3 linked regions of the Homo sapiens genome follow. The protein of the gene in region 2 purifies or fractionates together with the protein of the main gene of each other region. This does not show direct contact. Each region holds a gene or a part of one and is shown on either strand. Other genes may lie near its edges.

Evidence for each region.
Region 1: the proteins of CD2 (region 2) and ITK purify together in Homo sapiens (affinity purification with western blotting, with the first as the bait; one study listed by BioGRID). This does not show direct contact.
Region 3: the proteins of CD2 (region 2) and CD5 purify together in Homo sapiens (affinity purification with western blotting, with the first as the bait; one study listed by BioGRID). This does not show direct contact.

The regions. Positions count from the first base shown.
Region 1 is NC_000005.10:157,208,262-157,211,912, forward strand, and holds part of ITK (tyrosine-protein kinase ITK/TSK), read left to right. Parts: intron 1-627; coding exon 628-732; intron 733-3,025; coding exon 3,026-3,107; intron 3,108-3,651. UniProt on the Homo sapiens protein: Tyrosine kinase that plays an essential role in regulation of the adaptive immune response. Regulates the development, function and differentiation of conventional T-cells and nonconventional NKT-cells.
Region 2 is NC_000001.11:116,757,355-116,761,005, forward strand, and holds part of CD2 (T-cell surface antigen CD2 isoform 2 precursor), read left to right. Parts: intron 1-3,047; coding exon 3,048-3,278; intron 3,279-3,651. UniProt on the Homo sapiens protein: CD2 interacts with lymphocyte function-associated antigen CD58 (LFA-3) and CD48/BCM1 to mediate adhesion between T-cells and other cell types. CD2 is implicated in the triggering of T-cells, the cytoplasmic domain is implicated in the signaling function.
Region 3 is NC_000011.10:61,122,869-61,126,519, forward strand, and holds part of CD5 (T-cell surface glycoprotein CD5 isoform 1 precursor), read left to right. Parts: intron 1-38; coding exon 39-164; intron 165-1,015; coding exon 1,016-1,069; intron 1,070-2,163; coding exon 2,164-2,283; intron 2,284-2,882; coding exon 2,883-2,971; 3' UTR 2,972-2,973; intron 2,974-3,419; 3' UTR 3,420-3,651. UniProt on the Homo sapiens protein: Lymphoid-specific receptor expressed by all T-cells and in a subset of B-cells known as B1a cells. Plays a role in the regulation of TCR and BCR signaling, thymocyte selection, T-cell effector differentiation and immune tolerance.

The sequences.
Region 1 (3,651 bases), on a different chromosome or scaffold from region 2:
AATTAGTTATCAGGGAAATACAGCTAGCAAGTTTCCAAGGAAATGAGACACAGGCCCAGTAGTATTTGATGGGGAGGTTGGGGAGGACATGGAGAAGGGATAGTTATAGATCAGAGTCAGGAATGTCCTTTGGGAGTGTCATTGTGGGACTGCGGATAATTAAAGGACATGGAGAAGCCAGAGGCAGAAAAAAAAAGGTGCCACTAAGGGTATGCACCACAATCCAGGTCGGGTCCGAGCTCAATTACTATGCTAATATGGTCATGGATAGACACAGAGAAGAGAAAATTGTCATATGTGTGTCCATGGATTTCTCTACGCATCTCAGCTACAAGTTCTGCCAATGCTGCCATTTGTCACAAGGGCAGTGGGGTACATGACCCCGTGTCTCACTGAGTGGAAACCTGTCACCAAGAAGAAGACTCTAAAGGCATGTGTCCCCAGGAGTCTGCTCAGAGTGTTTATCCCACACTTAGGGCCAGGAGGCAGTTTTGGATATTTGGTTTGGAGGGTTGGAATAGGTTTAAAAAGCCAATGGATCTTATCTAGCAGTAGATTTCTGGAGCAATCTGGACAAAAATATTGTCTTCTTTCTTACATGAATGGGATGTTCTTCTCTCCCCACAGAAGAAGCGCACGCTGAAGGGGTCCATTGAGCTCTCCCGAATCAAATGTGTTGAGATTGTGAAAAGTGACATCAGCATCCCATGCCACTATAAATACCCGTTTCAGGTAAGTCCATCAGGTGGGTAGTTCCCCATTCCCTGGACTGTGGTTAAAATCTTCAGTCACAGCCGGGTGCAGTGGTTCAAGCCTGTAATCCTAGCACTTTGGGAGGTTGAGGCAGGCAGATCACGAGGTCAGGAGTTCAAGACCAGCCTGGCCAACATGAAACCCCATCTCTACTAAAAATACAAAAAATTAGCTGGGCGTACTGGCGGGCGCCTGTTATCCCAGCTACTCGGGAGGCTGAGACAGGAGAATTGTTTGAACCCAGGAGGCAGAGTTTTCAGTGAGCCAAGATCGTGCCATTCACTCCAGCCCAGGCAACAGAGTGAGACTCCGTCAAAAAAAAAAAAAAAAAATCCTCAGTCACTGTGAGAGAGGGTGGACACGGATGACTCTCTGCCTCTCTGCTCCAAGGTTAGGACTTAGACAAATCCCATTAGGAAACGTATGTGTTCCTTCCATCAGTGACATTTATTTGTTAATTCTTTCACTTATTGAACAAAAATTAAGCACAAAATCTTGAAAAGGTGGTTATTCCTTATACCCCTTTCCCTCATGTCTTCTCTTCCTCAAGGAAAGTCCTAATTAGTGAAGGAAGAAATAAAGCTGCTATCAGCGGCCTGAAACCTAATGTGCTTTAAGTGCAGTTTACTCATGATTTGAGGCAACATATTGCAATTGCTGGGTATGAATTGCTTGGAGATTCTGAGGCAAAAAGATTCAGATTTTATAATCTGAGGACTATCTGGAATCGCACTGTCTAGTACAGTAGCCACTAGCCACACATGGATGTTCACATTTAAATGTATTAAACGATATTAAAAATTCAGCTTCTTAGTCACATTGGGCACATTTCACATGTTCAATAGCAGGACATGGCTGGCAGCTACTGTACTGAAACAGCACTGGTTATAGAATGTTCCTATCACTGCAGAAATTTTTTTTTTTTTTTTGAGACAGAGTCTCACTCTGTCACCCAGGCTGGAGTGCAGTGGCGCAATCCCGGCTCACTGCAACCTCCACCTCCCTGGTTCAAGTGATTCTCCTGCCTCAGCCTACTGAATAGCTGGGACTACGGGCGTGTGCCAACACTCCCGGCTAATTTTTGTATTTTTAGTAGAGATGGGGTTTCACCATGTTGGTCAGACTAGTCTCAAACTCCTGACCTCGTGATCGACCCGCCTCGGCCTCCCAAAGTTCTACTGAACAGAGCTGGTGGAGGGTATCTTTAAAGTCCTTGTATATGAATCTTGGCACTTCTGGCTTCAAAGGCATGGATATCTCCTTGCACATCCCAGGGTACCATTCCTGCTTGCCAACCTGAGGGATGAACATATTTTTAACATGGCATAGAAAAGAACTTTTTTTCTACTAGAAAAGTGACCCTCATGAGTTGGAATTTTGAGGACTGAAAATAAAAGGAATAGCATGTATTTTTCAGTTGTTCAAAATCTCAATGATAATGAGTGCCTAAAAGAGAGGTGAAATATAAAGAAGACTGCAGTTTAGTTAACAGTATTGTACCAATGACAATCTCTTGGTTTTTTTTTTTTTTAATTTTTTTTTATTATACTTTAAGTTTTAGGGTACATGTGCACATTGTGCAGGTTAGTTACATATGTATACATGTGCCGTGCTGGTGCGCTGCACCCACTAACTCGTCATCTAGCATTGGGTATATCTCCCAATGCTATCCCTCCCCCCTCCCCCCACCCCACCACAGTCCCCAGAGTGTGATATTCCCCTTCCTGTGTCCATGTGATCTCATTGTTCAATTCCCACCTATGAGTGAGTTTTGAAAGATGTGTTGTGGTTACGTAAGATGTCATCAGTGGAGAAAAGTAGGTGAAAAGTACACAGGAACTCTGTACTATTTCTGGAACTTCTTGTGAGTCTTAAACTATTTCAAAATAAGAAGTTTTCAAAACTCTCATTGCACATTTGTCATATAATATCTTTCTCTTCCATGTGCCAGAAATATTTTTTTAATCACTAAAAACTTAAGATGAGAAATAAATGTGGTTTCTAGTCAAGAGGAGAACTTTCTCCTGCTGTCTTAGTTTAGTGATTGCTCTCTTGGGGCATGGAATCTGAGACGAGCAGCTGAAACTGCTTACCCTGTGTTTTTGTAGCACCCAAACACCTGGATAAAAAGGATACTGGCCCCCTAATTACCCAAATGTTTGCCTATATGACGATAAACACCCGAGACCCCACTCTCGGCTCAGTAGGTCTGCTGTCAGTCAACTATCTCCATGCACGCTGCTCACCTTGAACTCTGTGTGTGTGTCTCCAGGTGGTGCATGACAACTACCTCCTATATGTGTTTGCTCCAGATCGTGAGAGCCGGCAGCGCTGGGTGCTGGCCCTTAAAGAAGGTAATTAAACTCCTTTGCCATTGAATCACTGACACTCTTGATCCTATAGTAGGGTTGGGTTCCACAATAGAATAGAGTGTGGTGTGAGAGCAGCTGATGGCTGATTTCTCTTTTGGGGTTGGTGGAAGTTCCCAAGTTTTCATCCTGGGCCCAGGAAGCAATAACTGGTATCATTCAGGGATTGACCAAATCCAGCCTGCTGTCTGTTCTTGTCAGGCTCTGAGCAATATTTGTATATAACTCATTTCAAATAGTTTAATAAGTACCTACATAAGATGCTTGATTTTGTCTCATGGTCAGTAAAACCTAAAATATTTACTGTCTGGCCTTTTAAGAACAAATTTGCCAACTCCTCGTATAGTATGAAGAAGCAGAGCATAGGCCCTCATGTGAGATGACCTGGGTTTAAATCCCAGTCTGTCACTTGCTATGTACACTTGGGCGAGTTCCTTAATTGCCTGTGCTTCAGTTTCCCATCTGTTTAAAAGGAAGAAAAGGAAGGGATAACAGCACCTGCCTTTGGAGCTGATGTGAGCAAAGTCCT
Region 2 (3,651 bases):
TGCAGGCTGAAGAGGCAATGGAGGGCCCCTTAGAAGCAGATGCTAGTAGGGAAGGGGTTAATCCCAGCAACTCAGAATTAAGGAGTTCTCATCCATGGAAGGCCTTAGGTTGGATCAGTTCTAAGACGCTATCTTAGTGAATGTATACGGAGGTACTACTCCACAAGGGTGCCCATCACTGCATTATTCATGTTAGCGAAATACTAGAACAGTCAGCAGTTAGAAACTTATTAATCAGTTAAATTAAGAATGCATCCTTTAAAAAGATGCATATATGCATTTATTGATGTTCATTAAGAAAAGAACTTCATAATATAATTTCACAATAAAGGGGAAAAGGCAGACTGTAAGATCACATAAATTAGTTTTAATTTTTAAAATATTACATATATATATATAGAGAGAGAGAGAGAGAGAGAGAGGCAGACAGAAAGAGACAGGGTCTCACTCTGTCGTCCAGCCTGGAGTGCAGTGGTGAAATATTGGCTCACTGCAGCCTCTGCCTCTTGGGTTCAAGCAATTCTCATGCCTCAGCCTCCTGAGTAGTTTGGATTAGAGGCGCATGCCAACACACCTGGCTAATCTTCATATTTTTAGTAGAGATGTATTTCACCATGTTGGCCAGGCTACTCTTGAACTCCTGGCCTCAAGAGATCCGCCCACCTTAGCCTCCCAAAGTGCTGGATTACAGGCATGAGCCACCTCTCCCAGCTGAAATATTATATTATTTATATATATACATATAAATAGAAAATATCTGCTAAAGATATACATGAAAATATTATTCATTATTGACTTTGAGTGGTGGCGTTGTGGGTAATTTTTAATCTGCTTTAAACTTTTAAAAATATTTTATCAGCTTGTACAATGATTGGAGTTGAAAGCCCACGGATGCTGGGCAGGGAGTGATAAGAAGGGAAAAGAGGAAGCTGGCTTGGGGAGGAAGACAGGAACCCCAGCATGAGCACAGGCCAGCCATTCAGTGAGCAAATAAGCATTTCTGTGCTTCACACAGAAAATGTCGCCAGAAGCAGGGACCCCACCTTCTTCCTCTCTGTCTCCAGCCCCATCTTCAGCACCTGGGCCTACCAGCAATCCCAGATAGTGTCAGATTGCCCACTCCAGCAATCCCAGACACTGTCAGCTCCCCTGAAGTGACAACTTTCCACACCCTAGTCCTGCAACCTTGAGTGGAGAGCACCTTGTAGAAATGTAGTGGGGTTGAGCATGGCGCTGAAAAGAGCCTCTGATTATGGGCTCTGGAAACCACAGATCTCAGGACTCCAAACAGCACAGAACTCGAGTGTCCTGTTTTGAGTGTGAGCCCTACATGGGGGACCATGTTGGTGTTTTCACATTTGGGTCACATTTAGCATTGCGGCGGAAATAATGGCTACCAGTTAGGGGTCAAGTGCTTGCTTACATGATCTTATTTAAAGCGCCCAACAATACTGAGACCTAGTTGTTATTATCTCCTTGTTATATATAAGAAAACAGAGACCTAGTCAGAAGCAGCTTGTCCAAGGTCTCATTGCTTGACAGGAGCAAAGTCAGGATTCAAACTCAGAGGTCTTTTTGGCAAGGATGATGACCTTTTCTTTTTTTTCTAAACAGCTTCATTGAGATAATTCACCTATCATTCAATTTGTCCATACACTAAAACGGCCTTTAGTATATTCAGAGTTTTGCAACCATCACCACAATCATGTTACTGTGTTGCTGTTATAAGTAGAAAAAAAATATTTCCATTCTGAAGAGACGGGCAAACTTCGTGACCCAACCTCTAGACTATGTACTAACTCTGTTGCTGAATGTTGATAATTTCCATTTTCTTCCTTCTCAGTAACGCAGAATCTTGGGATGAGAAGAAAACTTTTAATTTAATTTCTGCATGCCTATATATATCGGGACATAAATGAAGTTTGACTATGGTGTTCCATGGGGAAAATATTGGTGTCTGGAAGTCAGAGTGGGAGGGAATCATTGAAAAATAAGCTAGTCCATCTATATTATGAATGGAGAGAAACTGAGAGGGAAAAGTGGCAAGTCTGGGGGGAACAAAGTAAAGAATGAGAAAAAAAAAAAACAGAAGACGAGGAAAAGGAAAAGTTCACACAGCTAGGAAGTGATGGGGCTAAGATGTAGACCTGAGCCATCTAATGCTAGGCCTAGGCATTTTCCTTTTGTGGTGCAATCTCTGTGCGGGAGAGGCAAGAGGTTTGTGATTATCGAATGCATGAATTACCACTAATAATGTCAGTGCCTAACGATCTGCCCAGGGCTTTGCCACATGTTGCTCCTTTTGTGACAGGTAGGGTATGTTTTTCTGATCCTTTTCTGATGCTCTGAGGAGGGCCAGCGTAGACCCTGTGAGCAACTGAGCAGCTCTGGGCTGGGAAAAGGCAGAATCAAGTCTCTGGTTCCCAGGCAGGTGCTCTTTTTCCCTAGAGCTTTGAGCTCCTTGGACACCCACACACTCACATATACCCACCTGGCCCACTGCTCCAGGAACTTGGTGGGGGCAGAGGTATCCAAGGTCCCCAGTCACATGTCAATGTGGTGATTCCTCCAGGATGGGGTTCCTGGCTGCTGTTAAAGCATTGCCTTTCTCAAACTCTGGAGGCACTTTCTTACCCATACTCCTAAACCCTGACTGCCATGTTTTAGGTGGTGCCCCAAGACCACCTACTGGACCTCTCAGAGCCTTGAACATTTTGTCTGTAAATGGGAAGAAAAACATCAGCCTGTCTGTTAGGGTTAAGTGATGTCATATATGTGAAAGCATTTTAAGGTATAAGACAGCATATAAACATTACATATGATACACTATTTAGTGGCATAATGTATCTGTGAATGTCATCAGAAATAATTTTTTTCTGAATGCTCTTTGTAAATAAAATAAAATAAAATAATTTCCAAAAGTTGCTAGAGGTCTTTGACATTGTTCCCTTGTCCCTAACTGACTCCATCCCCCACTGTATAAATAGATATGTTTATTAAAATCAGAAAATTGCCTAAATTGAACTGAATCTTTACTTTCTTTTTAGAGAGGGTCTCAAAACCAAAGATCTCCTGGACTTGTATCAACACAACCCTGACCTGTGAGGTAATGAATGGAACTGACCCCGAATTAAACCTGTATCAAGATGGGAAACATCTAAAACTTTCTCAGAGGGTCATCACACACAAGTGGACCACCAGCCTGAGTGCAAAATTCAAGTGCACAGCAGGGAACAAAGTCAGCAAGGAATCCAGTGTCGAGCCTGTCAGCTGTCCAGGTGCGTGGCGGGCATCACTTCACAAACACAGCCTGCCAGGCCCTCAGTAGGCAGAGGCATGCTGCTCCAGGTCACAGGTGCTCATGCTGGGAGGCAGCCCTGGCTCAGGATGAGGCATGAAAGCATATCTCTTCCTCCTGGAAACCTTCAAGGGAAGCATCAGGGGAGGTGGTGTTCTATGGTTTTCCATCCTGGGAGTCCTCCCACTGAGCACAATTTGACCACAAGAAATTTTAAAGATCCTCTTCTAGGAGAAAGAATTGCAAAACTGAAGAAGGAGGAGCTGTAGAGAGTATCTCATGCAAAGCCCCATTTTCCAGAGAGGGAAACTGACTTGCCCAAGGTCCCTTGGCTAGTTAGTGACATGATTCCA
Region 3 (3,651 bases), on a different chromosome or scaffold from region 2:
CAGGACTGGGACTGACCTAACTCTTCCTCCTTCCCCAGGCCAGGATCCAAACCCCGCAGGCCTGGCCGCAGGCACGGTGGCAAGCATCATCCTGGCCCTGGTGCTCCTGGTGGTGCTGCTGGTCGTGTGCGGCCCCCTTGCCTACAAGAAGCTAGTGAAGAAATGTAGGTGTCACGGCCCTGAGTGGCTCCGTTCCCACGTGCAGAGACTGGAGGGGCTGCACTAGAGTCCTCCGGAGGAGGGGTCATGCCTCCAGAGAGCTGGGCACGCAGGACACCTCTGCTTCACCACCCAGCCTTCCCCTCTCCTGCCCATTAGCCATTTTCTGCCCCAAGTAACAGAAACACAAAGTAAACAAAATTGCAATTGCTGATTTGTCCATCTCTGGAGCCCAGCTGAGACCCACTCCAGGTCAGAGAGAAGGTGTGGCCATTCCCAAGGCTGTGGCAGGCCCAGAGGGTGTTCAGTACAGCCTCTGATGGTAGGAGACACACATCCCAGGCCTAGCCCCACCACTTACCACTGCCCAAGATGCTGATTGGGACACTTCCTCTCTCTGACCCTCAGTTTCTTCATCTACCAAATGGGCAATCGCACACCTTGTGAACGCGGGGGGTTGTTCTCCTTGCCTTGCAGAACTTAAGAGGAAATTATTCAGACAAAGAAGTGAGAGGGGAGAGATTGGGAACAGAGGGCCCAGCAGGACAGTGTTAGGTCCTAGTGCCTGCCCAGGTCTAGTTCTAAACGCCTGTGGTCTTTTCTCCTGGGGAGCCGGGCACCTCTACACCATCCTCGGCCTGCTCCTTCGGCACAGGATGGCTGCAATTCCCTTCCCGAGCAAGTTAGGAAACTGAGGCCTACGAGAGACTCCAGGGGGCAGAGCCCAGCAGCCCTGCCCTCAGCTGCACCTGCCGCCACCATCTCCCTCCCAGGCCCAGCCCCATCCCCACCCCTGCCTGCCCCCACCCATACCTGCCCCCACCACTCTGATGTGCCTTTCTTGTCTCTTGCCCAGTCCGCCAGAAGAAGCAGCGCCAGTGGATTGGCCCAACGGGAATGAACCAAAACAGTAAGTGTCCCCGGAGGCAGGAGCCTCCCTCAGGCCCTGGACAGAGGCCATGGAGGCAGAGTCGAGGCTCTCTGCTGACCACAGACGGAGCCTGTGGCTGCTTGAAGCCTCTGATCTCCACGGTGCTTGTCTGACATGTGACTGTGGCCAACAGACGTCCCCACACCAGGGAGGGCGGAGGCTTCTTGATGGGCTGATGGCTGAGCGGTTTCTACCGCTGAAGCCTCAGAGTGTAGAAACATCTCATGGTATCCTTTCTGTCCCTCGCCCCATCTCTAGGGTCCCCAGCAGCCCTCACCTCCTCCAGCAGTATTCCCCAACACAGTAGCCAGTGGATGTTAACAGGCAGCACTCACAAGAGGCCTCCCTGATCAACAGATCTGGAAAACCATGAGTTAGGCACAGCTAAGCATAGCTATTTCAGGACTTATCAGAACCTTAATGGGCATTTTTGTATTGCCCATCTCCAAAGCAAGGATCCATTAAGAAGGGCTGTCCAAGTTATTTTCATCATGGAACAACTTACAGGGCCAGTATTAGGACATTTTGGTGCAGCCAGCCCAACACCATCCCTGGTCTTCATCCTCCCTCCTTCCAGCCACAGTCAGAGACACCCTAATGGATGGAGACATGGCGCTCTTCCTGCCTCCCATTCTGCCTTCTTCCCCCTTCCCAAGTCCACAGCCAAATCCTTCAAGAGGGCTCTGTTGAATTTGTTATTAAGAAAGGCTCTGGAAACTTTCTTAATAACATACAGGCCCTCAGCTCCTGGAGGGCAGGGAGCAGATCTGTCCCGTCACCTGTGCTCCAGTCTCCTGCTTGGTAAATGCTTGATGACCGACTCACGGAAGGCCCCACCCTGCCAGTCAGATTGCTGGGTTACCCAAACCTGCTCTAAAAGTCTGCTGCTGATCCTGCTAGCATGAACCTCCCAGGAAGAAAGGAGAGGGGGATGCATTGAAGGGGCTGTGGGTGCCTTTGTCCTCTCCCCGCTAACATCATGGGAATAGGAGATTAAAGTTCTGGGCACCTGCTGGGGAAGGAGACGGAGGACACAGCCACAAGTCTGACACTGTCTCCTACCATCTGCCCAGTGTCTTTCCATCGCAACCACACGGCAACCGTCCGATCCCATGCTGAGAACCCCACAGCCTCCCACGTGGATAACGAATACAGCCAACCTCCCAGGAACTCCCACCTGTCAGCTTATCCAGGTAAGCACCAGCGGGTGCTCCCAGGCACGCAGGCAGGGCTGCAGCAGGCCGCCAAGGCAGGTCACGTGATGCCCTTGAAGGTCGGGTGATGGCCCAAAGACAGAATGGAGACCCCAGGGTGCAAGGGGATCAAACATCGCAGGATGCAGCAGGGGTACGGAAGGGATATAGCCTTTGCAGGCCCCAGCTGTCCCGTTTGAGACCACAAACTACTCATCTGGAGAGAAGAATGCACTCAGAAAGCCATCAACCCCAGCCTTGCTGTGACCTAATGGGCCTGTTTCCCTTCAGGGCCTTGAGGGGCCTGGATGGTAAATGAGGCCCCTTGGATTCCTCCGGGCTAGAAGAGAGCCATTAAGTGGGCTGCAGGAGCGCTGTACTAAAGGCTCCCAGACTGGCACTACCAATTAAGCCCCAGGGAGCCTGGAGTTCAGCATCATTAGTGAACGTTTGGCTGATTTGATCAAAACAGATAAGGGGTTGTCACCGGCTCATAAAGCCCCTGTGATCTTCCAACCCACTGTGGGCAGCGGCTCTAGGATCCAAGGGGCTCTGTGGAGTCAAAAACCCTCTGCAAACAGCGTCCTTTCTTTCCCCAGCTCTGGAAGGGGCTCTGCATCGCTCCTCCATGCAGCCTGACAACTCCTCCGACAGTGACTATGATCTGCATGGGGCTCAGAGGCTGTAAAGGTGAGCCCGTCTCCAGCCTGACCCCAGCACCCCAGGGTCCCCCACAGTCCTGGGGGTGAGCAGCAGCCACTCAATGCCTCCCCTCAGTCCCACCCTGCCCATACATGAATAGGGGACCCCCAGCATCTTGATTCTTGTAAAGGGAAAGACAAACGTCAGCTGTTTAGGTTATACGAGCTGATTTGACAATTAGAGCAGAGCAATCATGAACTTTAACAATCAACTCTTAAACTCCATTCGGAAGGCCACACAGGCAGAGTCCCTAAGAGCTCCGTGATGGAGTCACACCCCTCTAGAGCTGCCAACCTGCCAGCGGGCAGAAGGAGCCCCTGGCTCAGGACAGCAGCCGTCCCCAAGATGGAGCCCAGAGCATGGGTCCTGTCCCCGACCTCCCTGCATCACCTCTGCGGTGTCTTCCTCTAACACGTTTCCTTCTCACCCCACAGAACTGGGATCCATGAGCAAAAAGCCGAGAGCCAGACCTGTTTGTCCTGAGAAAACTGTCCGCTCTTCACTTGAAATCATGTCCCTATTTCTACCCCGGCCAGAACATGGACAGAGGCCAGAAGCCTTCCGGACAGGCGCTGCTGCCCCGAGTGGCAGGCCAGCTCACACTCTGCTGCACAACAGCTCGGCCGCCCCTCCACTTGTGGAAGCTGTGGTGGGCAGAGCCCCAAA